3 separate regions of the Homo sapiens genome follow, and all the other regions are linked to region 1. Evidence: fine-mapped expression QTL. A gene starts in region 1. Each other region holds a variant in brackets. All regions are shown on one strand. Distances are between the middles of the regions. Region 1 holds the start of SLC5A11 (solute carrier family 5 member 11). Region 2 overlaps TNRC6A (trinucleotide repeat containing adaptor 6A). Region 3 overlaps PRKCB (protein kinase C beta).

Region 1 (10,460 bases):
GCCCGCGGGGAGGATTCACGGCAGCTTGTGTTATAACAAAGGCTTTGTTGGCAAGGAGAACAGCCTACCCTTGAGGTCGCCTATTGGCCAATGCACAAAAGGAAGCTCAGTGGAGCAGGGACTTCTCTCATCCCTTCCTTTTGGCCACTGACATAATTTGCTATGGTAGATGTGAAAATTTTCCACGCCCCAGGAGATGTGAAAAATTTCCACACCCCAGTGCAAGGAAAAGATCAGAAAAGAGGTTCCCAGGTCACAGGTGTGGGAAGGTGAGCTGTGATTGTATTTGCCGCATTTCATGCCTTAGGCTGGCTTCTGGATGTGCGTGATTCTTTATAACTTCTGTGTGTCTGAAACGTTTCATAATGAAAGAAAAAGGAGGGAAATAAACAGAGCACAATTTATAGCATGAAGCCAAAGCACTCAAAGACACAAAATAGTACTATTTTGCCAGAGTGCAGGCGTATTTCCAGATGAGTATCAAACACATTAGAGGGGGTGGCAGGAATCGGGGGAGAAACAGATAGAGTGGGAGAGAGAGAGAGAGAGAGAGAGAGAAGCAAGGGAAGTTCCCTGCTCTGAATGAAAATGACAATGACTAATTACAAATTTTAATTATGAGCAACAGACTCTCCAGGAAATAGATATGTCGTGATAAAGCGTAAAGTGTAAATACTTTAGAACTGCACCGCCCTGACTCAGATCCCAGCTCTGCCTCCTGTGAGCTCCTTCATCGTGGGCAAGTCACCTCTCTGAGGCTCAATTTCCCATCTACGAAATGAGGTTAATAATTAGACATACGTCACAGGTTTGTAAAAAGCAGTAGGCATGTTCATTGTATGTGTAATGTGATTAAATACAGAGTACTTGTTCTGTTCCCCGTCCATTTTATAAAACCATTTTTTTTAAAGAAAGCATGACTTGGGAGGCTGAGGCAGGAGGATTGCTTGAGCCCAGGAGTTTTGTTTTGTTTTGTTTTTTTTGAGATGAAGTCTCACTCTGTCCCCCAGACTGTAGTGCAGTGGTGCAATCTTGGCTCACTGCAACCTCTGCCTCCTGGCTTCAAGCGATTCTCCTGCCCCCAAGCGATTCGCCTGCCTCAGCCTCCCAGGTAGCTGGGATTACAGGCGTTTGCAACCACGTCCGGCTAATTTTTTTTTTCTTTTTTTGTATTTTTAGTAGACATGGGGTTTCACCATGTTGGCCAGGCTGGTCTTGAACTCCTGACCTCAGGTGATCCGCCTGCCTTGGCCTCCCAAAGTGCTGGGATTACAGGCGTGAGCCACTGCCCTGGGCCCAAGCCCAGGAGTTTGAGACTGCATTGAGCTATGATTGCACCACTGCATTCCAGCCTGGTGACAGAGTGAGACCCTATCTCTAAAAACAATAAAAATAAAAATAAAAGGAGCATAAACTAGGCCGGGTGCAGTGGCTTATGCCTGTAATCCCAGCACTTTGGGAGGCTGAGGCAGGTGGATTGCTTGAGGTCCAGAGTTCGAGACCAGCCTGGCCAACGTGATGAAACCCTGTCTCCACTAAAAATACAAAAATTAGCAGGGCGTGGTGGTGGGCTCCTGTAATCCCAGCTACTTGGGAGGCTGAGGCAGAAGAATCGCTTGAACCTGGGAGGTGGAGGTTGCAGTGAGCTGAAATTTCACCACTGCACTCTAGCCTGGGTGACAGAGCAAGACTCTGTCTTAAAGAAAAAAAAAAAACGAATAAACTTTGTGGTTAGGCAAACCTTGGCCACATATGTGCATGAATCATGTTTTGAAGTCACAGCCTCCCTACAAGGACTCTGATTAACTCCATTGTACAGGTGAGGAAAACAAAGCTGAGGCCGGGTCTAAGGCCACACTGCTAGTAAATGACTGAAGCAGGGCTCCAACCCAGGTTTAACTCTAGAGCTCCTAACTACCCCGAGACACGTGGACCTTGGTGGGGAAAATTCCAGATGTGATAAGGACTGGCACGGGTCTCATCACCCAGGCTGGAAGCCACTCGCACCCTTTCCTACCACTCCTGGGCTGCAGTGGCGCTGACTGCCTGCTGCACTGCAGCAAGCTGTGCCCTGGCCTGGCCTGGGTCTAGGGAGCCTAGTGGAGGCAGCCCTACAAGAGGAAAAGAGTCAGTCCTGGAAGGCAGAGAAGGGCTGTCTGGGACTAGAACTGCAGGAATAAGGAGCTAAATGACCACCCCTGGCCTCCTCCACCCGTTGATGCCATGGGGTTCATAGAAACAGAGAGATCTCTACAAAAAGGCCAAAAAGACAGATCCTGGCTGGGCTCAATGGCTCATGCCTATAATCCCAGCATTCTGGGGGGTCAAGGCATGAAGATCGCTTGAGGCCGGGAGTTTGAGCCCAGCTTGGGCAATGTAGTGAGACCCTTTTTTTTTTCTCCTCTACAACAAATTTTTAAAAATTAGCTGGGCATGGTGCTGTGTGTCTGTGGGCCTGGCTATTTGGGAGGCTGAGGCAGAAGGATTGTTTAAGCCCAAGAGGTTGAGGATGTAGTGAGCTGTGATTGCACCACTGCACTCCAGACCCTGTCTCAAATAATAGATAATAATAATGATAATAAAATAAAAAATTTTAAAAAGACATCTCAGGATTTGAGGCTGAAGCAGAGGCCAGGATCACCCCTAGTCCGTTAGCAAGAGCCACGGCTTCAGGTATCTGGAAATAAATTCTAGGCATGGCAGGGCAGGGCAGCGTTCCCTGAATGGTCCACAGCAGGGTAACAGGGCATATGCCCAGTGAGTGCAGGGGACCCGGCAGAGCGTTGTCCTTCACCTGCCTTTCAGGGATGATCTTGTCTCATTATTCCAGAGAGAATAGACATCACAGAGCACCTTCTGAGCCCAGACCTGTCCATCCAAATGCCAACGTGGCATCTCTCATGGATATATATATATATATATATATATATATATTTTTTTTTTTTTTTTTTTTTTGCCCCCAAGGCAGAGTCTCGCTCTGTTACCCAGGCTGGAGTGCAGTGGTGCAATCTCTGCTCACTGCAACCTCTGCCTCCCGGGTTCAAGCGATTCTCCCGCCTCAGCCTCCCGAGTAGCTGGGATTACAGGCATGTGTCACCACGCCTGGCTAATTTTTGTGTTTTTAGTAGAGATGGGGTTTCACCATGTTGCCCAGCTTGTCTTGAACTCCTGACCTCGGGTGATCCACCCGCCTCGGCCTCCCAAAGTGCTGGGATTACAGGCGTGAGCCACCGTGCCCGGCTTCTCATTGTTACTTAATAGATGTCTGAAAGTTCACACGTGCGAGTTACAGACCAAGCTTTCCAGCCCAAGCACGTGCTTCTTCCAGTCTTCCCCACCTCACTAAATGACAGCTGCAGCCACTCTGCCACTCCTGCCAGAAACCTGAGTCATCTATAAGGCATTAGTCCATTTGTTCACTTATCAAGTGGTCTGTGAGCACCTCTATGTGCCAGGCACTACATCTAAGCACCAAGAGTGCCTGGTATGTAAATGTCTCATCGAAGAATTTATAGCATCTCTTTCTCACCTCCCAGAATCTATTCACTCCCAATTCCATTCTCTCTTACTTCCAAAACATAATAAATCCACACATTTTCCCTCATTTTTAGTGCTATCACCCTTGTCTGAGCCACCATCACTTCTGTCTAGGTTAGAGAAAGACCCTCCAGTCTTACCTCCCCGATATCCATTCTTCCTTCCTTTTTATTTTATTATTTTATTTTTGTTTTAATTTACTTAATTTTTAGAGACAGGGTCTTGTTCCCTTGACCAAGCCGCAGTGCAATGGTGCCATCAGAGCTCACTGTGGCCTCAAACTCTCGAACATCTGTGCTCAAGGGATCCTCCCACCTCCGTCTCCCAAGTAGGTGGGACCACAGGTACATGCCAACATGCCTAGCTAATTTTTTATTTTTTGAGACAGGGTTTCACTCTGTTGCCTGGGCTAAAGTGCAGTGACACAAACACAGCTCCTGCAGCCTCAACCCCATGGGCTCAAATGATCCCTGCACAGTGCTGGGATTACAGGTGTGAGCCACCATGCCTGGCCTCCAGCTAACTTCTTATTTTGTAATTTTTTTGTAGAGACGGGGTCTTGCTATGTTGCCCAGACGGGTCTCAAACTCCAGGCCTCAAGCAATCCTCCCAACTTGGCCTCCCAAAGCACTGAGGTTGCAGGCATGAGCCACCTCACCCAGCCTTGCTTCCTTTTAATCCGCCCCTCACACGGAAGCCAGAGAAATCTTTAAGTATGAGTCAGATCAGATCATTTTCCTGCTCAAAACATCTCCATGCTGCTGGGGTGCTTTGTTGTGCTTCCAACCCCACCACATACTAGCATTCATTTTATTCCTGGAACACGATTTCTGGCCTCAGGGTCTTTGCCATTCTGTTCCCTCTGCCTGGGATGCTCTTCCCTGCACTCTTTGCTGGACAAGCTCCTACTCATCCTTTAGATGTCAGCCTGCTGTATATCCCCAAAGGAGCCCCCTCTTGGCCTCAATATAAATTGGGTCCCCAAGCTTTTTGCTTTCATGGCAAACACAACTTCTCATCACAGTCTAATCAAGTGTAACACTTGATGTGTGTGATTACCCCTTGTCTGCACTGCACAGCAAGCCCCATAAAGAAAGGTCCATGTCTCTGTCACTCTCATTGTGTCCCCAAAACAGGCATGCAATAAATGTTGGTACAACAAATAAATGTGGGATTTTTAGAGCCTTTGCTATAGATCCTTTGCACGCTGTGACCGCCCAAAAAAGGGACAGCATTTTTCCAAGTCCTATCTGCAGGATGCCCAATGGGCTAGGACACTTCTGTCAACTATTGCCCAGAATAATTCAGCAGAACACCATTTGAAAACCACTGATTGGTAGGGTGCAGTGGCTCATGCCTGTAATCCCAGCACTTTGCAAGGCTGAGGCGGGAGAATCGCTTGAGTTCAGGAGATTGAGACCAGCCAAGGCAACACAGGGAGACCCCATTTGTACAAAAAATAAAAATAAAAAAGTTAGCAGGGCATGCTGGTGAGCTATGATAGTACTACATTTCAGCCTGGGCAACACAGAGAGACCCTGTGAAAGAAAAGACAGAAAAGAAACGAGAGAGAGAGAGAACAGAAAACACACACAGAGAGAGAGAGGAGGCAAAGAAGGAAAGAAGGAAGGAGAAAGGGAAAGAAAGGAAGAAATAAATAATAAAAGAGAGAGAAGAAAGAAAGAAAGAAAGAAAAAAGGGAAAAGAAAGAGAAACAGAGAGGTGGGAGGGAGGGAAGGAAGGAAAGAAGGAAGGAGAAAGAAAGGGAAAGAAAGGAATAAGGAAAGAAATAAAAGAAAGAAGGAAAGAAAGAAAGAACAAAGAAAAGAAAGGAAAAGAAAGAAAAAGAAAGAAAGAGAAAAAGAAAGAAAGGAAAGAAAAAGAAAATCACTGATATTGTGGCTGAGCTCATGGCCACAGGAATTGAGTCTTGGCTTGGCCACTCACTATCTGTATTACCTTGAGCAAGTTATTTAATGACCCTTAGACTCTGTCCATGAATTAGGGGGTGCTGTACCTACCTTACAGGGTTTCTGTGTCAGTTAGATGAGATCCAGGCGTAAAGTTCTCTGCACGTGTCTGACACGTACCAGTGAAGACTTGTATTTGCCTTGTAGTTAACAGCAGCTGCAGTTGTAGTAAATACATTCCTATAGCTTTTTAATGCTTATGTGGATACATTTACCTTCGTTATCTCTGGGTAACACACCTGTGGGGTGGGTCAGCCTGAGGTTCATATTCCCATTTGACAGATAAGGAACCTGAGACTCGGTGAGGCAAAATGTTTGGCTCAATGTCCCTGACCTTGGTTAAGTGGAAGAGCTGGGACCCACGTACGGTGCTGCTGGCTGCCGGCTGCTGGCTTCATACCACCATGCCCACCCCACAAACACACTCCATTGTCCTGGTGTATGACAAGCTTTCTCTGCAGAGAGGGCTGAGCTTCCCCTGCCCCACAGGTGACAGCTGGAGTCCTTCTGCCAGCACCTGTCCCCAGACCAACTTCCCAGTTTGGAGAGTGGCTACCTGTTTGGGGGCAGGGGGTGTCTTACCTTATTCCAGATGCAGGGCTCACCTGCCCTGGGGGCTGTCAGTGGCTTCTAAGGCACTAGGAGGTGGCGGTGGTTGTAAGGAGGGAGATACCCGGGATCCTCTCTCTTTGCAGCCAAGAGCTTCCGGAGACAGCAGTGACCCTTCCTCCTATATGCCCGCTGCTGAGAGAGCCTCCAAGCGGGTCAAACTCCAAACTCCAGCCTCAGCTGCAGCGGGGATTAAAGGAAGCGTGAATGATCTCCCCAGGGCAGAAGAGAGAACGGGGCCCAGCCCAGGACCCTTGAACTCTGAGCAGGTGGGGAAGGTGACATGTCCCACGCTCTGCCCACACCGTCCTCCACCAGGGTCCTCACCTGCGTGGGGACCCATGGCATGGAGGGGTTGGGGAGACGCTGGAGCCCAAGGCACCATCCTGCTTCACTCACCCAGTCTTCCACTGTCCCGCCTCCACGCTGGGGACAGGCAGGCTTGGGACGAGCTGGAGGAAGGGGAGGGGAGGAAAAATGCTGGCGGCGGATGGAGGGGACAGAGGCAAAGTGCCAGGAGGGACGTCCAGCCACAGCCCTCACCGCAGTGGCAGCAACAGGAACAGCAACCATTGCTTGTGCAACCCCTTTCCATATACTCTTCAGACAGAGGCATGGCAAAGAACAGGTGTCTGCCTGAAGTCGAGAGTTCGAGACCAGCCTGACCAACATGGAGAAACCCCATCTCTACTAAAAATACAAAGTTAGCCGGGTATGGTGGTGCATGCCTGTGGTCCCAGCTACTCGGGAGGCTGAGGCAGGAGAATCACTTGAATCCGGGAGGCGGAGGTTGTGGTGAGCCGAGATTACACCATTGCACTCCAGCCTGGGCAACAAGAGCGAAAATCAGTCTCAAAAAAAGAAGAAGAAGAAGAAGAAGAGGTGTCTGAGGCCCTGAAAAACCGTCAGGAGTGACCGAGCCATGGCCAGGCGCCCACATCGGGCCCAGGACATCAGCGGGGCATAGCGAAGATTTCTGCCAGATGCTCAAAGCATCCAAAACTTTATTTACTTTTTATTTCTGAGACAGGATCTCACTCTGTCACCCAGGCTGGAGTGCAGTGGTGGCATCACAGCTTGCTGCAGGCTCATCCTCCTGGGCTCAAGTGATCCTCCCACCACAGCCTCCCGAGTAGCTGGGACTACAGGCGTGCACCACCACACCCAGCTAATTTTTTCATTTTTTTGGTAGAGAGAGAATCTTGCTATGTTGCCCAGGCTGGTCTCCAACTCCTGGGTTTAAGTGATCCTCCCACCTTGGCCTCCCAAAGTGCTGGGATTACAGGGGTCAAACACTGTGCCAGGCCAAATACCAAAACATTTTAAAAATAGTTACTAGTATTTGCAAACCAAGAGGCTTGAAACATAATTCTAGAATACTCACTTTTCTAGAACAACCTGAAGATCTGGCCTCACCAGGCCCCCATGGCCACAGGACAGCTGCTGACTGGGGAGGAGTCGTGGCCTCCCCATCTCACTCCTTCACTGGGCCTGCCAGGCTCTGGGGGGCCCTCAGCTGAGGCCCCTGTCCTGGCACCGAGTAGCCAGAAATAATAGCAGTGATGAACACGTGCCAGGCTCTAAGGGCACAACATGCCTTTACTCACTTGGTCTTTCCAACAACCCTCGAAGTTAGGTCCTGTTATCTCTATCTTACTGACGAGGTAACAGAGGTAGAGGAGATGAGTCATCGGCCCAGGATCACCCGGGTTGTAAGTGACACAGCAAGATTTCAGCCCAGGCCACCTGGCTCTAGAGTCCTGCAGGAGCAGTGGAGGGTGGCTTGACTGGATAAAGGGTGGCCTGGGTGAGCAAACACTGGGTGACTGACCAACACCAGTATGAATGGGGCCTTTGGGGGAGGGACCTGCCCTGGGGGACAGATTTACAGAAGGAACAGCTGGGATTGGAGAAGAGGGACAGACAGAAGGCCATGAATCTGTGATCTGCAGCAGAGGCCACAGCACCAGGAAAGGCAGTGGGGTGCCACCGAGGGTGCACTGCTTCGCCAACCTGGGGTCCAGTCCTGACTTCTTGGGAATGTCTGGGGAGCCTTAGCCATGTGCAGGGTGTCTACAGAAGAGGCGTGGTAGTGAGTGAAGCCGGGCAGGTGGAGCTGAGGCTGACCCGAGAGCATGTGTCCCAGCTGAAGAGGACAGCCACGACCCAGCTCCACGTGGGGGAAGACAGGCCCAATGGGGTCAGAACTTCTGATTGTTCTAGAGAAGTTCTGCAAAGTTTCATGATTACGCATCCTTGAGGGCCAGATGTGGCCTGCTCGACCCTTGGCTTGTCACCTCCGATTGTTTCTCTGTCAGGTTTTTCATTTTTACCCTCAGTGCTATAAAGAATAGGAGAGGTGGAGTGCAGGGGCTCATGCTATCATCTCAGAGCTTTGGGAAGCTGAGGCAGGAGGATCTCTTGAGGCCAGGAGTTAGAGGCCAGTCTGGGTAACTCAGTGAGACCCTCATCTCTACACAAAATAGGAAGAATTAGATGGACATAGCAGTGTGCACCTGTAGTCCCAGCTACTCAGGAGACTGAGGTGGGAGAATCGTTTGAGCCCAGGAGTTCAAGGCTGCAGTGAGCCATGATAGTGCCACTACACTCGAGGCAACAGAATGAGATCTCAATTCAAAAAAAAAAAAAAAAAAAAAAAGAACTGTATAACCACTTTAGAGAACTATTTGGACATTTCTTATAAAGTTACCATACACTTTGCCGAGCGCGGTGGCTCATGCCTGTAATCGCAGCACTTTGGGAGGCCAAGGTGGGTGGATCACAAGGTCAGGAGTTCAAGACCAGCCTGCACTCGTCTCTACTAAAAATACAAAAATTAGCTGGGTGTTGTGGTGGGCCCCTGTAATCCCAGCTACTCAGGAGGCTGAGGCAGGAGAATCATTTGAACCTGGGAGGCAGATGGAGGTTGCAGTGAGCCAAGACCGTGCCATTGCACTCCAGCCTGGGTGACAAGGCGAAACTCCATCTAAAAAATAAAATTAAATAAATAAATAAATAAAGTTACCATACACCTCCCCCATGACCCAGCAATTTCACTCTTAGGTATTTATCAAGAGAAATGGAGACATATGTTCCCAAAAAGTTGTGCACACAAGTGTTCATGGTGGCCTTATTCAAAACTGTTTCTAAGTGGAAACAACACCAGTTCCATCGACAGGTGAGTGAAGAAACAAACTGCGGTGCATCCAACACCGTGAAAAACTTTCATCGAAAGGAATGAACTACCCAACCCACGCAACACCACGGATGAATCGAAGACTCTACGAAACATTATGCTGAGCAAAAGGAGCTGACCTGGGCTGGGTGCGGTGGTCACACCTGTGATCCCAGCACTTTGGGAGGCCGAGGTGGGTGGATCGCCTGAGGTCAGGAGTTCGAGACCAGCCTGGCCTATGTTGTAAAACGCTGTCTCTTCCAAAAATATAAAATTAAATTATCCTGCTGTGGTGGTGTGCGCCTGTGGTCCCAGTTACTCGTGAGGCTGAGACAGGAGAATTGCTTGAACCCAGGAGGTGGAGGCTGCAGTAAGCCAGGATCACGCCACTGGACTCCAGCCTGGGTGAGACAGAGCAAGACTCCATCTCAAAAAAAAAAAAAAAAAAAAAAAAAAAAAGCTGACATGAAAAGAGTACAGACCTTATGATTCAATTTATGTGAGGCTCAAGAACAGGAAAGATGGATTTGTGGTGACAGAAGTCAAAGAACAGGACCCAGTGAACAACTGGAAGAGGGTGGGAGTGTGCTCTCAGAGGTGATGGAAATTTCTATTATCTTGAATTGGGTGGTAATTATACGGTATATACAATTGGTAAAACCCCGTGAATTGAAGGATGAACACTTATGCTTTTTTTTTTTTTTTTGACCAAGTCTCACTCTATCACCCAGGATGGAGTGCAATGGCGCCATCTCAGCTCACTTAAACTTCTGTCTCCTGGGTTCAAGTGATTCTCCTGCCTCACCCTCCCAAAGTGCTGGGATTACAGGCATGAGCCACCGCGCCTGGCTGACTCATGCATTTTATTGTATGTAAATTATATCTTTAAAAATGAGAGCAGATGGCCGGGCACAGTGGCTTACCCCTGTAATCCTAGCACTTTGGGAGGCCGAGGTGGGCGGATCATGAGGTCAAGAGATCGAGACAATCCTGGCCAACATGGTGAAACCCTGTCTCTACTAAAAATACAAAAATTAGCCAGGCGTGGTGGGGTGCACCTGTAGTCCCAGCTACTCGGGAGGCTGAGGCAGGAGAATCGCTTGAACACAGGAGATGGAGGTTGCAGTGAGCCGAGATCATGCCATTGCACTGTAGCCTGGGTGACAGAG
Region 2 (10,460 bases), 27 kb after region 1:
AGGGAGAAGCGAGGGCCGTGAAGGGGGAAGAAAAGGCCAGTCCGGGTGTGGCGTTTCTCGCTTTGTAACAGAGGTATGAGAGTTTAACACTAGTACACTGTCAAGTCATTAAGCTTCATGTTCCACATGGTTTCTTGCTGAGGCTTGAGATGGGCACAAATGGTGGGGAAGATGAAGTCACAGAAGAGTTTTGAGCAACAAGATCCCAAAGATGCTCAGAGAGGGTGGGAAGGAGCAAGCTACAGTTTCCCATTGTTCTCACATTATTTCAGGGTGAAATTGTGATGAGTTCAGATAAAATGTTCAAATATTTGCTTAGATTTTTAATCGGTTGCTCTATGAGAACCCTCATACATAGCAACTTTGAAACTTTCATTATAAAAAAGAGCCTACAAATAAATTCACAAAAAGGAGACAATTAATGTTGAGCAGCCAAAAAGTCATGGTTTATTATATCTGAAGAAATTTCATAATTCAAACACAACCAAACTGTACATTTTACAATCACATTCTATTTGTAAACAGTTAAAAGCCACTGACTTCTTTTGCATCTTAGGACACAAACAGTTAGAATCAAGGCAATGATATGATGGCAAATTCTGTACTGTTAAAATTTTTACCCTTGTTTAGTCTCTCTTCTTTGACTAAGCAAGCATTATAATACCATTTGTGGGCAAAAAAAGGGGGGAGGAAAGAAAGTTTAAAATGGTGTAACTCGTTAGTTTGCAACAACATTTAAAATTTTCTTTATACAACAAACAACTCTGTAAGCCCAATACCTTGGTTACAGTATGCATAGTTACTGATTTCGGCTTTAAGGTACAACAGTTAAACATTAACACAGTCACGAGAGAGCAGAAACATATGGAGCCACTTGATGGGATTACAAAAAATTATTACCTATTGATTATTAGCAAACCATCATCACTCACTAATAAAAAGACAGCATCTGAAAGCAGAATGTCAAACTCCAGCTTTAAGCGTTTTTTTGTTTTTTCTTTTTTTTTGGCAGAGAAAATTCTTTAACAGAGCAATATGTAGTATCAGTGCTAAAAGTTGGGGTTTTTCTTTTTTTCCTCTAAGAAACTACAAGGAATTTTTTTTTTTTTTTTTAAACTGGGGAACTGGTTTTCCTGAGAACCATGCTCTTTGATTTGGGACAGGAATAGAAAAACAAAAGAACATGGCCAAATGCTGCTCCTTTTTCCCAGAGATAGAAAGCATCTTTTAAATCATCCTCCATTTTTTTTTTGTCTTTTACATTTTTTTTAAATGATGGAAGAGTAAACATTTTTTTTTCTCAAAAAACAAACAAAAAAATCTGTAAACAAGAAGGTTCAAAGTGAGAACCTCCAAAACAAAATGGAAAGCCTATTCAAAGTGCAGGGCCCGTCCTGGGTGGCAGGTGGGCTGCAAGTCACAGCTGTGGCCACAGTTTTTCAAACTGCAGAGCGAAATTCTTTAGTTTTACAACATGAAAAAACTGGTGCAACACTTTCATTAATAATCCTAAGTCAGCATCCTAACTTGATCTTTTAAACTCCACGATACCACAATAAGGTAGGCAACATCAAGGCATAGTAGAGAGCGCACGCCTCCTAAGAACACCCTTGAGTAAACATTGACACTGGGACAGCTGCCCCCCATACTGCCGATGAGACGGAGAGAACATCATTCAGTGCAAAGGGAAAAGCTCATACGTTATCAGCCCAAAAAATGGTTTTGCAAGAGAGAAAAAAAGGGGCGGGGGGGGGGGTTGGGGAGGAATAGAAGGAAAAAAAAAAAAAGAATCCAAAGGCTAAACATGATGAATAGACACAAGCGAGCTCATTCTCTACGGTTTAGCATGTATGGCGCTATTTGGGAGTGTAAATAGAGTAGATACCTTTTCACATTATAATATTGGCCTGCATGATTCAAGTATTCAAACTGATATGTTTTGGGGAAAACAAAGTGGAAAATGTGCAGAGAATAGCTGTTCCCACAGGCGGCCCCTGGCTGCAGGCGGCGAGCCCCACTTAGTGCTCCTTTCCCTCGCGTCTGAGGTCCCGGTCGGTGAGTCTGCATCTACACTGTTACATGGACTCTCCACCCCCACCCAGGTGGTCAACAGAAAGAAAAGCGTTAATGGGAGATGGGCTGCTAATTCCTCGGGGGTCGCTGCTGCTTGGGGGACCCCACAGGCTTGTGGAATAATGCGGGGTCCCCCAGAGTGAAGTGCCGTGAAGGTCTCCACAGTTAGTTCCCGACAGCCCAGCACCATTCCAGTGATTGAGATCGGTCCGGCTGGAGAATGAGTGGGAACAGTCGAGGGAGCCCAGCCGGCTCTGGCTGGACCCGAGAGACTGCCAGCCGGGAGAAGGGGTCAGAGACTGGCTTTGTGCAAAGAAACGACTGATCTCCTCTTCACTGGCAAACTCAGCAAGAATAGTAGTGTTCCCCAGTACACACCTAGAGGAGAGAGGCACCGCGGACACGTGAGGACAGCACACCAGGAGGGCTTCATTCACTCACAAGTGAGGGTGCAACTTGTCTCTGCTAGAAAAGCCACAGAAGGCACAGAGGGAGAGACTACACCACATAACCTGCGTGCCCTCCCTTCACCCGAGTGTGCACCCACAGCTCTCCAGGGCCTGGTGCCTTGCCCAGAGCGAACTTCCTCTGTCTGCCATGGGCAACGTAAGGGACTTTCTAGGGCCATCTAGCCAGGTCTGATTCCCCGCTTAGGAATGCCGACCTTGGAATCAGGGCACTACTGCAGCCAGCAGGAGCCACCCACGCAGGACCCTGTGCACTGCCCCGGGTCAGGCTGTGCTCTCACACTCCTTCCCCTAGACTCTTCCAACTGGGAGCCCAACAGCCAACTTACATGTGCAGAGACTTTTGTGCCTTCACTACCTCTTCTTTTGAACTGTAGCGGACCAGAGCATTTCCGTGAGGGAGGTTCAGGTGGAATGTGATCAGCGGGCCGTGCTGCATGCACAGAGTGCGCAGAGTTGAGCCATCGATCTAGGAAACAGTGTGGAAACTGCCAGTGAGAGGCGTCACCGCGGGCCCTCCAGGAGGCTGTTTCAGGCTGCACTGCTGCCCCTCCTCTCTTTCCTGAGGCTCTGTGCTCCTGGCACCACTCTTCACTGACACTCTGACGTTGCTCTGACGGGGTGCAGAGCCATCTTCCCCACCTCCACTGCTCCCAGAGCCATACCGCTCTGGCCTCTAGACTCCTGGACACTCCCCAGATCCCCACTGTGGCTCCATGTCTTCTCTCTTCCCTGCCCTGAGGACAGCATCCATCAAGGTTCTGCTCCCTGAGGGAGGAGGGAGGTGGGAGCTCAACACCCAGCCTCCAGAGGAGGGCGCAGGCCAGGGGCTAAGAAAATGCTCTCACCTCAGGGGCAGACCAGGATTTCTCCATGTGCCAACAAGGACCACCTGTGTCAAATTCATCTGCAGGCCCTCATACAAATGCAGAGTCCCAGCCCCTAGCCCAGATCTACTGACTCAATCTCTGGGTGAGGCCTGGGAATCTGTATGCTTGGTTGGTTCCCAGGCACATTACAGCGTGAACCACCAGATTCGACCACAGCCTGCCTGAGGTCTACAGACCACTCCTCTGCTGTTTCCTCTGCTCGGCTTCACTACCACCTAGCAGCCCTTGTCTCACATACAGACCCGAACCTCTGTTCCCATGCTCCCTGGCGTAGCCACATAAACCAGCGTATCTGGTATCCTTACCTGAGGTGTAAGGTTTTTTAGAACAAGCCAATTTGTTATTCTCCCTGAGCTGCTCTCACCCCAGCTGGAACCTAAACAAGGAAAAAAAGGACAAGTCAGTTTTCCAGGACTGAAAGAGCCCAACTACAGTTACTTAGCAGATCACCTGGCCTCTTGACTTCCTTCACTTCCTTGCACTTCTACATGGGAGGCTTTCTCCCTAGGCCCAGAATTTCAGCTCGCCCTAGCCATGGCCAGGCATTAACTCCTATGGCAGGGGGCTCTGCCTCTGGCGACAGTGAGCTCAGAATGGCTCCCAGTTCACCACAGAGGAGGGCAGTGAGCCACAAAAGGCTGCATCTTTTTGAGATCTTCTCATTGATAGGAGCTAAAATAATCTCAAACGGTACCATCTGGGGAAGACTTCAGTAGTGTCTGATCACTCTGCGTGTGTGTCCTTCAGGGCATGAAGCTTTAAGGGGATTCCAGAGCTTGCGATCGCACAGATGCTCCTTGTTTTCCCCGGGGTTACTGCAGGGGCTCCCCATCTGGCCTTCCTGCTGGACCCCTGTGGCATCCACCCTTCCCCTGGGAGTACAGCCCTCATCCCTGACCCCATCTGCAACTCAAGGCACCTCACAAACACTTCAGGTGCTGGGAAAGACCATTCCATGACACAGCTCAGGCCTATCCACCTCTCACGGAATCCTCCTCCACTCCCTGCAATCCTCTCATCACTCCAACGGGAGCCTTTGTGCTTTCTCCGGTGTCTGGGCCTTGGCAGAGGCTGCCCCTCGGTTCGCTTGGCTTACTCCTACAGGTTTCCTAATTCCACTCAACTGCACCAAGCCTCCCTGGGGTGGGTTCCTGGGCCACTTTCACTAGCGCCCCTCGCTGTGTGCTGCCAGTCTCTTAGCTGGCATCCAGACAGATGTCTGCGGCCTCCAAAAACCACTCACACCAAACCAAAAACCACTCACACCACACCAATTATGTTAACTTGCATTCAGCAGCTTGGCACGTACTTTAGTGTTCTTTTCCTATAATTAACCCGCACTCAAAGGAAAAGCTGCAAGTTTTCCTACAGCCAATCACCTGTCTAAAGATCAGAAATTACATATTTAATCAGAAAATATTAATGAGGTTTTATTACTCATTTTCAGCTTGAAGATGGGAATGTTTGGTAGTTTGCAGGCAAGGTAGAGTGAAGGATAAGACTGTATTTACTGGGGAAACTGCTAGGCTCATCTGGGGCTGTGTGTGTATATGTATGGTGTGGAGACAGCACAGGCAGGAAATGATGCCAGTACAAATCCAATGTTAGTCATTATAGAATGAGGAAAGGCAGAGGAACCAGACTGCCGGGGCCTTCTGGCTTATGCCTGTTGGCCATGTATGATTAATCAACAGCACTCTCTTTCACTCTCAAATGTCCCCATTTAATACAGGCCAAGCTACCCCCCTAGTCTTCAAGGCCCAGATGGCCTGCTCCCATGTTCCCCAGACTTGCCCAATACTGCCTTCTGCTCCATGTGATGTGGTTTAAGCCTGCCATGAGCAGGAAGTTCCTACACATTTTAAGATGTAGTCTTGAGGAACTTCTGAGACAATGGAGCTTCCTAATGCATTAATGTTATTGCAGCCTGTTGTGTGCCTTTGGGTGGATCATTTGTTTACCGAAGTTCTCATTCCCCCTGATGGAGGTGAGGCAATAGTTTACCGTTCAGGTCTCTGTTAAACTCGACTGTTAGTACTGGTTAGC[G/A]TTTAGCAAATAAACCACAGAAACCCACCTTACGACTGCATCTTACCTGGGGTATATCTGGCGTCAGAATTTCCCCATCCTCCACCTATACGAAGGGGAGAATTATCCCACGTAGACAAGGGTGGCTTCTGACCAGTCAGTCCCGGAGGTGGGCGGGACGGAGCAGTGATGTTTTTAGGTGGCAAAGGGACCTTCCACAGCTCATGAGCCAGAGAGGTGTTTGTAACTGAACCAGGAGACCATGTCAATTTGGAATCACTATTTCTGGCTACTCAAAGGGGGAAAAAATGGAGAGGGGAGGAATAATGTTTAAGAAAGGAGGAAATTTAAATAATGACATCCATTCTCCCACAAAAAGCAAATCTAACAAACAAAAGAAACTTTAAAACCCCAAATCAACTAAACTGCCAAAAAAGAAAATCAGTCCAAAGGAAACTGCTTTCCATCCCTCCAAACACTCAAGCCATTGATCTGTTACTAACAGCTGTAAGACCTATGAAATTCTTAGGCCAGTGTCCAAAACTGTACTCAAACTGAAATGGAAAACAATCTGAATTGCTCTAAAATAGCAATTGTGAAATTCTTAATAACCGTAATTGAGTCACTCAAGAAAGGCCATTTAAGTGAATTTTAGAACTTTGTTGTTTACTCAGGGAAAAAAGGACTGCAAAAGAGCCCCAACTCAGGAGCTGCCAAAGGAGATCTTCACGGGGTGCCTGCCTCTCTGTGCTGAGCATTGGCTGCTGGGCACCTGGCATGTGCTGTCTGTGGTCCTGACACAGTCTACTGAAGACAGAGTGGGTAAGTAATTTGCTTATGGGTCTAATGCAGAGCCAGGATTCAAAACTAAGCCTGTATGGCAAAACAAAAAACAAAAAAACAAAAAAACAAAAAAAAAAGAAAGAAAAAGGGAGGGAAGAAGAAAGGAAAGGAAAGGAAGGAAAGACAGAGAGAGAAAGAAGGAAAGGAAGGAAGAAAGAAAAAGACAGCAGGCCCAGTTCCTGACACACACTGCCTCGCAGCAATGGAGACATGAGTGGGTATGCAGGGACCAGGTACACAGTAAACCACATCAACTATCATGCTAAAAGCATGAGGGGACAGCAAGGAGTGGAACAATTCCTGTCTTCCATCACTATCAACTCTTTTTCTTACTTCACTTACAAAGTGTGTGTGCATTAGGTCAGTGCTACTCAGGGTATGGCCAGGAGACCACCACAACACAGTTTCATACTAATCTGCTGCAGGACGAGTCCAGAAATCCAGAGTGCGCATATGTAGACAGACAGCAACCTGACATTCCTGTAACTCTCAAGTGTGCCATCATTTTCCTAGCAATTCAGAATTCATGTTTACCGTATTTTACAAAAGTATCAGTCTATGAGGATTGGCATTTTTTTTTTTTTTTAAAGATCCTCCGCTGCAGATAGTCTGAGAACTAGTTTGGATTAAATTACATTTAATTACAGAGCTGCTGTGGCTCTGAGATGAGATGAGAGCTGTTCAGTGAAAACTGATTTTAGTAGATGACTGCTGGGTACAGTAAGTTTAAAAAGGAGTAAGGGATGTTAAAAATAATTTCCCAGGCTCACAAACAGAATCTCCTAATTCCCTGAGAAGACTGGACGAAAGAAGAGGGCATTAAAACAACAGCCGCGGCTCTGGCTGTGACCAACCCTCCCTTCCTGAGCGAAGGCGAGGCCCACCTGAAGTGCTTTGTGCTGTACTGCTGAGGGGAACGTTGTAGTTGGAGGCACGAATGGATGACCAGGCACTAGTTGAAGGCAGCGTGGTGTTCAAGGATGAGGATGACCCTGTGTGGGGGAAGAGTCCAATCAGCCACCAGAGCAAGGGACGTGGAGGTTCAGAAAAAGCAAAAGCTTCCAGAGAAATCAAAGCTAACAGTATGCCACAAGAAAGGAAACAGGTCCACTCAGGGTAAGATGGTGCCCGAGACATCTTCCTTCTTGCCTTCAAAAGAGCATGCTGAGCGAGCTCGCCAATTGTCTCTGCCTTGGCTCAGCACAGGCATTTTCCCTCTGATTTTGTCCTCACTGGCTGTGAGGATGCGCTCTAGCAATGGGGTCCAGCCACCAAGACAGCACTTGGCTCTGCTTCCCAGCACTGGGTCTAAAAAGGAGGTTCGAGTCTTGGTGCTAACTCGCCCCTGAGCTCCAGTGACTTCTTACTGGCTATCCTGCTCTCTAAGGCACCTGGTCACAGACACTACTAGTGAACAGGCCCTTCAGCCTTCTCCATTACGCGATATATTCAGGCTCCCAAACCTGGTGTAGCTTTCCATTTTCAAAACCCCATCGACCACTACTCTAGTTGAGCTCTAGACCCGACCACCATCTGGATTACTACACCAGTTCCCTGGCTTGTCTCCCAACCCAATCCACTCTGCTCACCACAGCCAGATTACCCCATCTTAAAGATTCTTCCACTCAAAGCCTTCAATGTTCTATTTCCTTTAACACCAAATTCAAACTCTACTGACTTTCAGAGCCATCGGATTCTTCCACTAACTCCCACGCCATGAGAATTTATGCTTGGCTTAGTGTTCCCATAGCGGGCAGAGCTGTCTGTGAAACCCAGCCATTTCACAATGCTAAGGACTCTTCTCTGCTTGTTACCTCTGTAAATTACACGTCTAACGCAACATGGTGGCTGCTTCACATGTGCTTTATAAACTGTTTAAAGGTATAGATGGTATTTTAAAAAGACAGAAAATACTTTTTAATATTTAAAAAATTAATTTCGTTAACACTCTTCTGGTACAAAATCATGGATGAAACACATCTAAATGCCTTGAGGTGAAAAGTAACCCCGTGGCAGGTAATCGGATTTTATTTGCTAACCAATTAAAAAGCACATCTGGACTGCAGGGATCCTTAAATTGGTCTTATTCTTACTCTCTGAAAGACAGCCTAATTCGCTCTTCCAGATGAAAGTCCTTCAATATTCAGAGTATATAAGCATATATAATAATATAACGTCTTTTACAAGAAACACCCATTTTTTAAACTACCATAATCTTGTAACTCAGTATAAAGTTAGTAACAACCTTCATTTGCTGTTTTTTCATTCCTTTAATACAACTGCTGGAAAGCAAAGGTTTGCTGGTCCTTTATGTTAACTTATTAAATTAATATATATATTTGCCATACTAAGGGATGATAAAATCCTCACCATTTAAAAAGTAGCCAAATTAAAGAGCCACCTATGGGAACAGAGAGAATTCTGTCTGCCATTCTTCTTCTTCGTTTTCTTTCTTTTTTAAAGAGACAGGGTCCCACAACTATGTTGCCCAGGCTTGCCTCAAGCTCCTGGGCTCAAGTGATCCCAGAGTACCCTGGGCTCAGTCGCCCAGAGTAGCTGGGTACTACATGAGCCATTCTTAAACTGTGTTAAGTGTCACTCAGAAATTGATTTGCACCCCCTACGTACCACTGTTCCTGTCCCTGAGGTGGTCAACTTCCCGCACAGTATTAATTGAAAGATTGTTTATGACACTGCCAGGAGTGACGTAAGGGTCAGTTTCAGGGTCAATGTTTGGATAACCTTTCCATGGCTCACCAGGACGAAATTCTGGAAACGGAAATTTAAAATTAGTTCAAAGCTTAATCATCATTTTAAAATCCATTAATAAATATCCAAAACCTTTATTCCTGAATCCTATGCAACTCTCAAATACTTTCCAATTTACACTAATACTCTAAGAGGATGGTTCAGTTAATACAATTAGTATTATAGAAGCTATTCTTTATAAATTACTTGCAAGTTTTTACAACTGAAATCATCTCACTGAATGTGAATATACATACCCACACACACACGTAACATATACACATACGTACTTGTGTGTGTGTTAAAAAATCATATATATGTATGTATGTTTGAGACAGGGTCTTTCTCTATCACCCAGGTTGGAGTGTAGTGGTGCAATCACAGCTCACTGCAGCTTTGAACTCCTGGACTCAAGTGATCTCCCACCTCAGCCTCCCAAAGTGCTGGGATTACAGGCATAAGCCACTGTGCCTGGCTGTGATTCATGTATTTTTTTTTTTTTTTTTTTGAGACAGAGTCTCGCTCTGTTGCCCAGGCTGGAGTGCAGTGGCATGATCTTGGCTCACTGCGAGCTCCGCCTCCTGTGTTCACGCCACTCTCCTGCCTCAGCCTCCCGAGTAGCTGGGACTACGGGCACACACCGCCATACCCGGCTAATTTCTTTTTGCATTTTTAGTAGAGATGGGGTTTCACCGTGTTAGCTAGGACGGTCTCCATCTCCTGGGACCTCGTTACCTGCCCACCTCAGCCTCCCAAAGTGCTAGGATTACAGGCATGAGCCACCGTACCCGCCAGATTCATGTTTATTTTTAAACAGTAACATTTAAAAGTGCTTTAAGCTTTAAGACAAATCACAAAGCTACTGCAACTCAGGTAGGAGAAAGCAGGCCATAGAAGCACTTCTGGTAACTCCTATGTATGAATGAAAATACTGCAAGTTACTCCCTGACACAACTTACGAGAAACAGCGAATTAAAGTTTTTGTTGTTGTTGTCTTGCTCTGTCGCCCAGGCTGGAGTGCAGTGGCGCAATTTCGGCTCACTGCAAGCTCTGCCTCCCGGGTTCACGCCATTCTCCTGCCTCAGCCTCCTGTAGCTGGGACTACAGGCGCCCGCCACCACGCCTGGCTAATTTTTTGTAGTTTTAGTAGAGACGGGGTTTCACCGTGTTAGCCAGCATGGTCTCGATCTCCTGACCTCGTGATCCGCCCGCCTCGGCCTCCCAAAGTGCTGGGATTACTGGCATGTGCCACTGCGCCCAGCCTAAAGTTTTTAATATAATTCTTCATGCTGGTCAATGGGGCTCACTTCTACCTCTGCTGCTTGAGCATAAAGGCATAGGTAACAGGCTGACACACTCACTTGCCCAAGACTTCATGCTTAACTTTTCCTCAATCACTTCTGCATTCCTTCTC
Region 3 (10,460 bases), 990 kb after region 1:
TGATCATATATGTTATATATTATATAATCATATATATAAATCATATATATATGATTTTAAAAATCATGGAGAGATGTGTTCTGCTACAAGGGTTTGTGATAAAGGATTAATTTTCTTAATTACTCTGTTTTGCAATAATCAATATTATTATCCTTAAAGCAAAATTAGGAATGCCTTTGTTCTCAAGATATCGGGATAGCTGGACACTGCCAAGCCTGGCTCTGTTTAGTAAACATTATCAATCTGTTCCCTTAACTGTAGACATCTAGAGGCTAGGAATACCTTTCTTTCTGGGAATGCAGCCCAGCAAGTCCCGGTCTTATTTTCCTAGCCCTTACTCAAGATGGAGTCACTCTGGCTCAAGTGCCTCTGACAATTGGGGAAATGACTTCACCTCTCTGGGCGTTAGTTTTCCCATGTGTTAGACAGAAAAGAGTCTCGTTTCTGTTATGGGCAAGCAAGCTTCAGCTAGACCCAACCTTTCCATAGGTAACAAGTAAAAACTCTCAACGAAAAAAAAATTTTTTCCTGAAATTACTCGAAAGTGAACAAAAGAAAGCAGATTCTGCAGAGAGGTTGAAACTTGGAAGAAGGGAATGGTCATTTTACAGCTTTTCCCCTGAACGCAAGCTGCTGTCAGCTAAAACTTCAACATGAAGCCTCAAGTCTTTCTGGTGTACAGAACCAGAGGACAGGTTTCAGGTCACTCACGGCTTCTGGAAAGTGAGGAAGGAATTCCATAATAGAGACAGCCAAGAGAGAAGAGCCCCAAATTCTGTGTCTAAACCCCACCCAAATGTCTGGCTGACTCTTGAACCATGCATGCATGGGGCAGTCCCAAAGAAGACTCAAGGATAAAATAAAAAACAGAACTGACATCTGAGCTGGTGTCCCAGAGACAGTCTACTGTCCAACCAAGTCAATGGCCTACTAAAACAAAAACATCAATGCTTTTCAGAGAAATACGAATGAATCCAGAGTCTCCACAGCACAACACTTACAGTGTCCAGGATACAATCCAAAATTACCCGACATACAAAAAACCAGGAAGATAAGACACAATCTCAAGAGAAGCTAATCAACCAGGAAAAAAGGGGGAGGAGCAATGATTCAGAGTAGGTTGAGGCAATAACCTCAAATTGTGTGAGATACAATGCATTCTACTGGAAAGAACAGAAAACCCATCTTAAGACGTTTTAAGCAGTAAGAGAATTATCTAACAAAACAAAATTTCAAGAGATAGAGCTATATCAAGATTAGTGAATTCAGGGGCTCAAGGATATTGTGAAGGAGACAGATCCTCTCCCTCTTTTTACACTGCCATTTACAGCTTGCCAACCTTGTCCCTCATGGTCAAAACATAGCTGCCACAGCTCCAAGCACCACATGCAAATGTGACATGAAATACTTAAACACAAATCCTTTGTCCTATGTCCCCTTCCTTCCTGCTTTGCCCTGTGAGTATGTGATTCTGGGAGCTATCACAGCCTTCCTGGGACCAAGAAGGGAGACACTGATCACATTTTGAGGATGGCAGAGCAAATAACTGAGAGGCGCTTGATGACAGTGTTAAGTCTTTGATTAAACCAACCCTGGAACCACCAGCCTCCTTGTTAGGCTCGCCAGATATTCTGTTTTTAAGAACCAAAGCAGGTCAGGCATGGTGGCTCATGCCTGTAATCCCAGCACTTTAGGAGGCGGAGGTGTGAGGATTGCTTGAGCCCAAATTCAAGACCAGCCTGGGAAACACAGTGAGACCCTGTTTCTATAAAAAATAAAATAATTAGCTAGGAATGGTGGGACATGCCTGTAGTCCCAGCTACCTGGGAGGCTGAAGTGGGAGGTTTGCTTGAGCCTGGGAGGTTGAGGCTGCAGTGAGCTGTGTTTGTGCCACTGCACTCCAGCCTGGGTGACAGAGCAAGACCTTGTCTCAAAAAAAAAAAAAGAACTAATGCATCCTATCTGAAACAACCTCCAGAATTGGAGAGCTAGTAACACTTGCTATAAATAGAAGGTGAGTATGAAGAACACAATGAAAATTTAAATTATTAAATTCTAGCAGGTACATAGCTCTGAGTCTGAGATTGCTTCATTCTTTTAGCTTAAAAGGGAGATTTGCATGCATTAGAAAGATGTTTAGGACATGATAGCACCAAACTAAGACACTCTCCTTAACCCGAAGAATTAAAAGAAAAAAACATTTTTTTCTTTTTTATACTGAGTCTCATTCTGTTGCCTAGGCTAGAGTACAGTAGCGCGATCTTGGCTCACTGCAACCTCTGACTCCGGGTCCAAGCAATTCTCCTGCCTCAGCCTCCCGAGTAGCTGGGAGTACAGGCACACACCACCATGCCCGGTTTTTTTGTTTTGATTTGTTTTGTTTCTTTTTTTTTTTAGTAGAGATGGGGTTTCACCATGTTCACCAGGCTGGTCTGGAATTCCTGACCTCAAGTGATCCACCCACCTTGGCCTCTCAAAGTGCTGGGATTACAGGTGTGAGCCACCACACGCGGCCTACAAGAGAATTTCTTTTAAAACTACGTAGTTCCATGTTGTTGAATACCTTACATCATTAAAAATCTTTGAGTGCCACCAGTAACATACTTCAGATATTTTAAAAATGCACCCCTGTATTAACAACTCCCAAACATTTACCTCTATCCCTGACTTCTCATGACTTCCAGTTGCCTTTGGGCACCTACACCCGGATATGGCACAGGCACCTCATCCTCAACATACCCAACGCATAATTCTCTATCTTCTCCCCCAAGCTTTCTCTTCTTCTTGTATTCTCTGCTGCTATTCATGATATTTCTATGTATCAAGCACCCAAACCCGGACTCCCTCAATAGGTGACAACATTTATAGTACTTTTTTTTGGTACTAAGTGCCAGGGTGCCACTGCATCTTACACAAGCACTAACATATTTGATCCTGACAACTCTTATTAGGTAGGTCCTATTATCATTCACCCCTTTTTCAAAATGAAGAAGCTAAGGATAAGAAATTTGCCTGGGGTCATGAGATTTGAATGCAGGTCTGTCTAATTCCTCTTTTTTTCTGCTTCACAAAGAAAATAGAAACCACCAAGCAAGATTTCTCAACTGGCCTCAAAACTTCATTTATTTCCCACCCATTTTCCCATCACTTCTCATTTTCACCTGTGCTCTCCCCTCCATGGGTCCTTCCCTTCCTTGACAACTCTCTCGCTCTCTCTCTTTCTCTCTCTCTCTTTCTCTCTCTCTCTCTCCTAATGCTGTCAACCTCACCCCCTTGAGAAGTGCCATGCTCCCTTTGGGAACCTGGAGGTCTTTCTCTCCTGCTTTTAAAGTTTCCTGCCTTTTCTCTGCCTCCTCCAAATTTTCTATTCTTCAAGCTAAACATCCCCGGGTACTTCAACTACTTCTTCCTGCCAAGTGTCTTCTCTCTCTTGCTTCTCCCCGCACCTCACTGACATTCTTCCTCTCTCTTTCACTGCTTCCTCTGCCTCAAAACCCAACTGAGAACTCAGGCTCCTCTGTGCAGCCTCCCCAGGACCCTGGGAGGTGAGCTGCTCCTGGCATTTCTCCCCCCTCTCCACCATTACAGCACACATCACACTGAGTTATCAATGTGTGATTTATGAGTCTGGCCTACAAGTTTAGGGGCTGCTTGAGGACAGAAAGCAGCTTCCCCCTGCCCATCACAGGGCGGCTGACTATGCCAGCCAGACCACGCTGTGCTATCACTCCTTTTACACTACTCTCTTCTGAGTGGACTTTGGAAAAGATACAAAGGAGGGATCTCACACTTTCCAAATCAGACCCCACAACTTGATATGCCACCTTCTGTGCCCTGGCCAAAGACTGACCAGGGATACTGGTGGAGTAGCTGAACCTGGACCTTCAAGCCTAGGAGTCAGACCACCTGGGTTTGTTGCCCTCTTCAACTACTTAGCTTAGAGACCAGTGGCAAGTTAATTAATGTCTCCTGGGATTTGTTTGTTTAGAGAGAGGGTCTCACTCTGTCACCCAGACTGGAGTGCAGTGGTGCCATCAAAGCTCACTACAGCCTCAACCCTCACAAGCTCAAGGGATCCTCCCACCTCAGCCTCCTAAGTAGCTGTGAATATAAGCACGAGCCACCACACCTAGCTCATTTTTTTTTATTCTTTGCAGAGATGGGGTTTCACTATGTTTCCCAGGCTGGAAGCTATTTAATATCTCTAAGCCTCAGTCACTTCATGAAGTTAATAATGAGATCAACCTCCTAGGGTGCTGTGGACATTCAATGAGATCATGTGTGTGAAGCATCCAGCTCAGTGCCTCAATAAATTAGTGCAGCTCTTCAGGGAAGTATTATTCCATGAAAGTGCCTGCTGTATGTAACCCTCTTCCTTCCAAGTGACTCAACAGCTTGCATAGTTCTCAGCCTGTCCTCCCAGCCTGGTAACTTAGGCATGAAGAAATCAGCCTACTGTGATCACGTGGCCAATGAAAGTCCTCAAACTAGAAGCCACTTTCTGAATTCCTTATTCAAGGCTATGGCTAAAAAAATCTACACATGTGCAAACTCCCCCACTGGGAAAAAAAAAAAACAGTTTGATGGAAGTATTCCTCCCACTAGAGAATTTCCCCTTCCTGTCAAATGTTGCCAGTTTCATTCATTGCTGTGGCAGGCACACTTTCCTGGCCATGAGAGATGGGCCTTATCACCATCCCGTATACCAGATCCTTCCTGGTTGCCATTCTGCCACACTCTTACGGGGCCTTCCTCACCATGGTGCTCCTCTGTGACCCCCGGAGCCCTTCACCTTGGTGAACAGACAGTCTGACTCGAATGGACCTGAATTCAATCTACGCTCTGCAGTTACTTAAGCAAATGTTTTATCTTCTCTAAGCTTGCTTTCTTATCTACAAAAGGGATAAGAATAGCAGCAAATCTTAGTGGAAGGTAAAGATTCAAAGGGATAAAGTTTGTGAAAATGCCCAGCTCATTGCAGACACTGAAATATTAGCTGCCTTCATCATCATCATCATCATCCTCATCATCAACGTCATTGTCACCATCAATTCTGAAGTTACACAATCCTAAAACCAAGTCTATTTTTGAATCCTAACTGTAACTTTGGAAAAATTTCTCAATTCTTTGTGCTGTTTTCTCAGCATAAAATGGCAACAATAACAGTAGCAGCCACACAGGGCTGTTGTGAGGATTAAATAAGTTAATACATGTAAAGTACTTAGAACAGTGCCAGTCACCGAGTGAGTACTCAATAAATGTCAGCTCAAGTTAATGGCATTTGAAATCTTTGAAGACATCCAGGAAATGGAAAATTCCCTTGGCCTCTCTGTCCAATGAATAGAGATCCTTCTAGGGACTGCAGACGCACGTGCGCACACACCCACACACACACACACACTCTCTCTCTCTCTCTCACATCCTCAAGCAGGGACAAGCCTAGCCCGGATTTCATTTTTTT[C/T]TTGGACTTGACTTTTCGTCCCATCTGGAGTGCCCTGGCCCCCCTATGGCCCTTGGGCCCCAAATCAGAGACGGCCAGAAGGGAAACACAGAGAGGCCAGCTGTCATGTGGGCCCCCACCTATCAGGCACACCAGAGAACATAAACACACACTGAATCCCAGCCCTTGGAAGTCTCGGCTGGAGGCAACCCTCAGCAGAGTCCCACCATGGGGATCTGACCCACCTCCGTGCTGGCATACTGTTCCCACATCTTCTGGCGGCTCTCTGCAGCCCCTAAACACCTCCTCCTCCCTCCCTCTGTGCTGATTCTGCTCATAAAACACTTCTTTCTCAACCCACATTATCCCCCAGGATAAGCAGCTCCTTCTCTCTGCAGGAGAGGGACAGTTCTCCGCCAGCATTCGACACAGCTCTCTGACACTTCACCCGAGTGACAGGTCAGGCCAGGCAGTTCCGCCAAAACCAATCATTCCATTTCTAAAAACCTCTTATACCATACTTAAAATTCTATTTGGAAAAATAACTTTTGTCTGTGATATGTTAAAGCTGAAAGATGATAATAAAAATTATCTTGGGACATGGTGATGGGGTAAGAATAAAACTTCTAATTATAAAGAATTCAAAGCACTACATTTATATCATCTCTAAAGATTAAAAAAAAAGCCTCAACAGTCCATGGGCCAAGTTCATGAGCCCCCAGAGCCTCTTCTCTATATATTTCACAGTGATATTCGAACTACATTGACAGTTACCTGCAGTAAGAGACACATTTTACATTTTGACCCAGTTCACTCATGGCTATATATGTTTATATCAAATAAAAATTGTATGAGGCCAGGAGTAGTGGCTCATGCCTATAATCCCAGTACTTTGGGAAGCCAAGGTAGGAGGACTGTTTGAGCTCAGGAGTTTGAGACCAGCCCGAGCAACATAGGGAGACCCTATCTCTACAAAAAGTTTTAGAAATTAGCCAGGCATGATGGCATGTGCCTCAAGTCCCAGCTACTCATGAGAATGAGGTGGGAGGATCTCTTGGGCCTGGGAGGTTGAGGATACAGTCAGCTATGATTGTACCACTGCACTCCAGCCTGTGCGACAGACAAAGACCCTGTCTCAAAAAAAAAAAAAGTTTCGTGAAACAATATCTACCCTTCCTGAGAGTGATGCACTGTGATATTTTCTGTTCTGCTTTCTTCATGGTATTCTTGACCTATTATATTGACTTCATGAACTTCTAATGAGTGATGACCCACAGTTTAAAAAACATACATAGAAGAATTCAAGAAAACTTTCCAGAGTGGGGCTGCAATCTGATACAGGGGTTAAGGGCAACAGGACATTGAAGTCATGCAGTCTGGGCTTGAAATACAAGTTGGAATCTCCTGTGACTCAGGAGTGTGTAGCATAACAGAAGTAATGTGAGGTATAAAGTATCGTTGGTTGGATATGAATCCCAGCTCTCCTCTCTGGTAGCTGGATGACCCAGGACAAGCTATTCCCATGTCATTCCCTAGGCCTAGTCAGATTAGGACTCTCTGTCCATGATATTCCAGTGCCAGCAAGTACAGTCTATGAATCTGGATAGTAACTAAATCAGTACTGTGAATGAACCAAGGTATAGTTTGAAATGAACCTCTAAGAAAGACATAGAAGCACGCAGTGAACCCCAGAAGGCATTCCCCCAAATGCAGCCCCCTCAAAACCATCTATAGGGACAAGGCACTCATTCCCCCAGCTGCTGGGAAAACCAATTGCTCACAGCTGTGTCCTCCCTGGGACTCCTCCCCTGAAGAAGGGAGCTGCTTTGCCCAAGGTAATGCTGCCTTCCAAAGAGCAGCCCACAATCAATGCCCACTTGATGCATTGGCTTGTCCCAGTTCTGAAGGGCCGTCTCAGCTCCAGCCATGGAATTGGCTTTGGCCTCTATTACAACTATTGCACCACAGTTCAACTACCTCTTCCCTGCTTCCCTCTATCCCTTATAGATGTTGTTCCCAAGAGCTACATCCCCAATAAACCACCTGCATACAAATCTTCATCTTTTAAGACAATTTATCAATGATGCTAGCCAGAGTTGCAGAAGAACTAAATAAAGATGAGGTCTTTAGGACATTTTTACAAGGGCACATTTAAGAACTTATATTTTTTTCTATAACTAACATTTAATAAGCAATCACATGATTTTTGTTTTCATTTTTGTTTTTTGTTTGTTTGTGGTTTTTGTTGTTGTTTGCCTGTCTCATTTAATCCACATAGAACTCTGGGAGGTAGGCTCTGTGCCATTATCTTCATTTCACAGACAAAGAAACTGAAGATTAAAAAGAAAGATGCCTAAGACCCCACATGTGATTGGGGAGGAACTGAGGCCTGAACCCATGCTCTTGACCAGTAAGTCATCAGACCTCATCCGCACTCCATCACAGCTCTGTGATCACACTGACCACACTGTGTTGCAAGAACTCACTCACACGCCTCTCTCTCTCTCTCTCTCCTGCCACCCCCTCCCCCGCCGGCTCTCTTTATTCTCTCCCTCCTCAAGTACAGGGGCTTTGTCTTCCTTTCTCTGAATCTCAAGCTTTTAGGGAGTGCCAAGTGGTAGTAACGGTAGTATTTGATGGCAGTATTCAGTAGTCATGGTGGTAGTATTCAGTGTTGCGTGTGCACTAAGTCCTGGCCGTATCCTTTGCATACAGCATCTCATCTGGCCCTACCATTTCCCTAGGAGGTAGGTAGTATTATTATCAGGTGTAAATGTTGAGCACTCATTTGGGGCCTGCCTTTGATCAAGTTCATTTTCAGAAATGCACACTAGACTGGAGTATGTTTTTAGACAGCCAAGCAATTGCGAGGACCACACTGAAATTAGTGTGGTGGGTTCCAAAAAATATCACAAATTATTTGCAGCTTCTCCCATCAAGAGGAGGCATCTCTATTCTCTTCTCTATTTCCTCCTTTACTTCTGGGGTGGGCTTGTGATTTGCTTTGACCAGGGAATATGGCAGAAGTGATGTTATGCATGTTCTGAGCCTTGGCTTCAAGAAGCCCTGCAGCCCTTGCTCATGCCCAGAGAATGCACCCATCAGCATATGACCATGCTCAGGATAGCCCACTGGAAGATGAAAGACCTGAAGAGAGGCCCCAGTTGTCCTAGACATCCCTGCTGAGGCCCCAGGAAGGTAAATGAGCCCAGCCAAGAACAGCCAATCCCTGCCCAGATCAGACAGACCACCCAGCTGAGCCCAGCCCAAATTACTGACCCACAGAAACTAAAACTAAATAAAACAGTGGCTACTTTAAGCCACTAAGCCTTGAGGTTATGTGCTATCCAGCAATAGATAATTGATTTGTTGGGTGTCCAGTCAAATATCTGGAAGTAGAACCAACAAAGGATTCTTCTATATAACAAGTCAGCTTAGAAGAGAACTAACCCGGCCTCAAAGAGATCTGCTTGGGATGTCCACAGGTGATATGGTTTGGCTGTGTCCCCACCCAAATCTCATCTTGAATTGTAGCTCTCATAATCCCCATGTGTCATGAGAAGGACCTGGCGGAAGGTAATGGAATCATGGGGGTGGGTTTTCTAATGCTGTTCTCGTGATAGTGAATAAGTCTCACGAGATCTGATGGTTTTATAAAGGGCAGTTCCCCTGTGCACGCTCTCTTGCCTGCTGCCATGTAAGAAGTGCCTTGACCTTCCTTTGCCTTCTGCCATGATTGTGAGGCCTCCCCAGCCATGCTGAATTGTGAGTCAATTAAACCTCTTTCCTTTATAAATTACCCAGTCTCAGTTATGCCTTTATTAGCAGCATGAGAATGGATTAATACAACAGGCAACCAGAGAGGCAAGAATTCTGACTGATTGAAAAACTAGAAAGTCTGACAAGAGCCAGATTGTTCTAATAACTAAAAACAAGAAAAGTGCTTCTTTATTTCACTTTTAGGAACACAAATAGAACTCACTCTTTCCCTGCTATGTTTGATAAGATAAAGACGTCCAGAGTTTTGCATCTTAGTTTTACCAGTCAAGTGAGAGATAAAACTAGATACATCACCGCAAAGAAAGACAAAGGAAATTATGGCTTTGGAGACTGGAGTGAGATTTACTGAGTTCATCAAAACCTGTTTTCTTTTCCTCCTGGACATAGAGCTAGTCGACATGTCCCAGGACCCCCTTCCGTTGGTTGCCTCTTTGCCTGGGTTCTGGCAAATAGAATGTGAGCAGAAGTGATGTGACTTCCTTCCCCAGCTGAAGTTGTTGTGAAATGAGTGTGCTTTCTCAATTTCCCTTTCCCCTTCCACTGGCCCAATGGGGAGGACCCTGGGGTCCTGTGTGACTCTGTGGAAGATGTCCTGACCAGGACCACCTGCACTGGTTAGTGACATGAGTAAGAAATAAACTCCCTTCTGTCAAGCCACAGAGACTTCAAGGTTTGTCTGTTACAGCAGCTTTAATAGATTCTTACTAATACAGAATTTTTGAAATGTTAAGCCCTAAAAATAGTTTGTGAGCTCAAGTTTTCCTAGTATTTACAGAGCTAAATTATTGTGTGGAAAAACTGTCAGAATGCCCTGGCTTCCTTGTTGAACAGTCTGGAACCGATGGGCAACATTGAAACAGGAAGCAGATGTTCCCCAAAGAAGGCAAACGGCACCATTCCCCAATGGGTGATTCCAGAAGGTGCCTGTCTCCCATACGGATTTCACTTCCTCTATGCAAAACTAAAAAAGTCCCAGCTAACATTTCTCAGGCTCAGCCTCAGTAACTTAAAGCTCTGCACTTTTTAAATTTTTTAACAGAAAAATGGGCATAAGTCAATGGAGTTGCATAACAGAAAAGTGGGCATAAGTTCAGGAACAGATGAAAGTAATCATAGGTGATAGAGGTTAGGATAGTGATTACTCCTGAAGGATACGGTTGATAGGGATTGTGAGATGATGCTTCTAGGGTACCAGCATGTTCTGTTTCTTGATCTGGATGTCAATCAATTCTTCTTAAAC

What was found.
Region 2: its variant is fine-mapped to the expression of SLC5A11 in whole blood (INTERVAL, PIP above 0.99).
Region 3: its variant is fine-mapped to the expression of SLC5A11 in uterus (GTEx, PIP 0.98).

Annotation. Positions count from the first base shown.
Region 1 is chr16:24,842,068-24,852,527 of GRCh38, reverse strand. SLC5A11 (solute carrier family 5 member 11) reads right to left here and starts at 6,565. Exons shown (of 17, transcript NM_001352248.3): 1 at 6,516-6,565; 2 at 6,090-6,296.
Region 2 is chr16:24,815,423-24,825,882 of GRCh38, reverse strand. It overlaps TNRC6A (trinucleotide repeat containing adaptor 6A), which reads right to left. Exons shown (of 25, transcript NM_014494.4): 20 at 8,927-9,067; 21 at 7,183-7,290; 22 at 5,523-5,744; 23 at 3,736-3,806; 24 at 2,870-3,009; 25 at 1-2,451. The coding sequence ends at 2,076. Among named protein-coding and RNA genes, the nearest start is that of SLC5A11, 25 kb to the left of the region's middle. RefSeq lists an enhancer at 2,571-3,071. The variant G/A (reference allele first, on the strand shown) is at 5,477.
Region 3 is chr16:23,852,659-23,863,118 of GRCh38, reverse strand. All of the region lies in intron 2 of PRKCB (protein kinase C beta), which reads right to left. Among named protein-coding and RNA genes, the nearest start is that of PRKCB, 22 kb to the right of the region's middle. RefSeq lists an enhancer at 9,510-9,599. The variant C/T (reference allele first, on the strand shown) is at 5,462.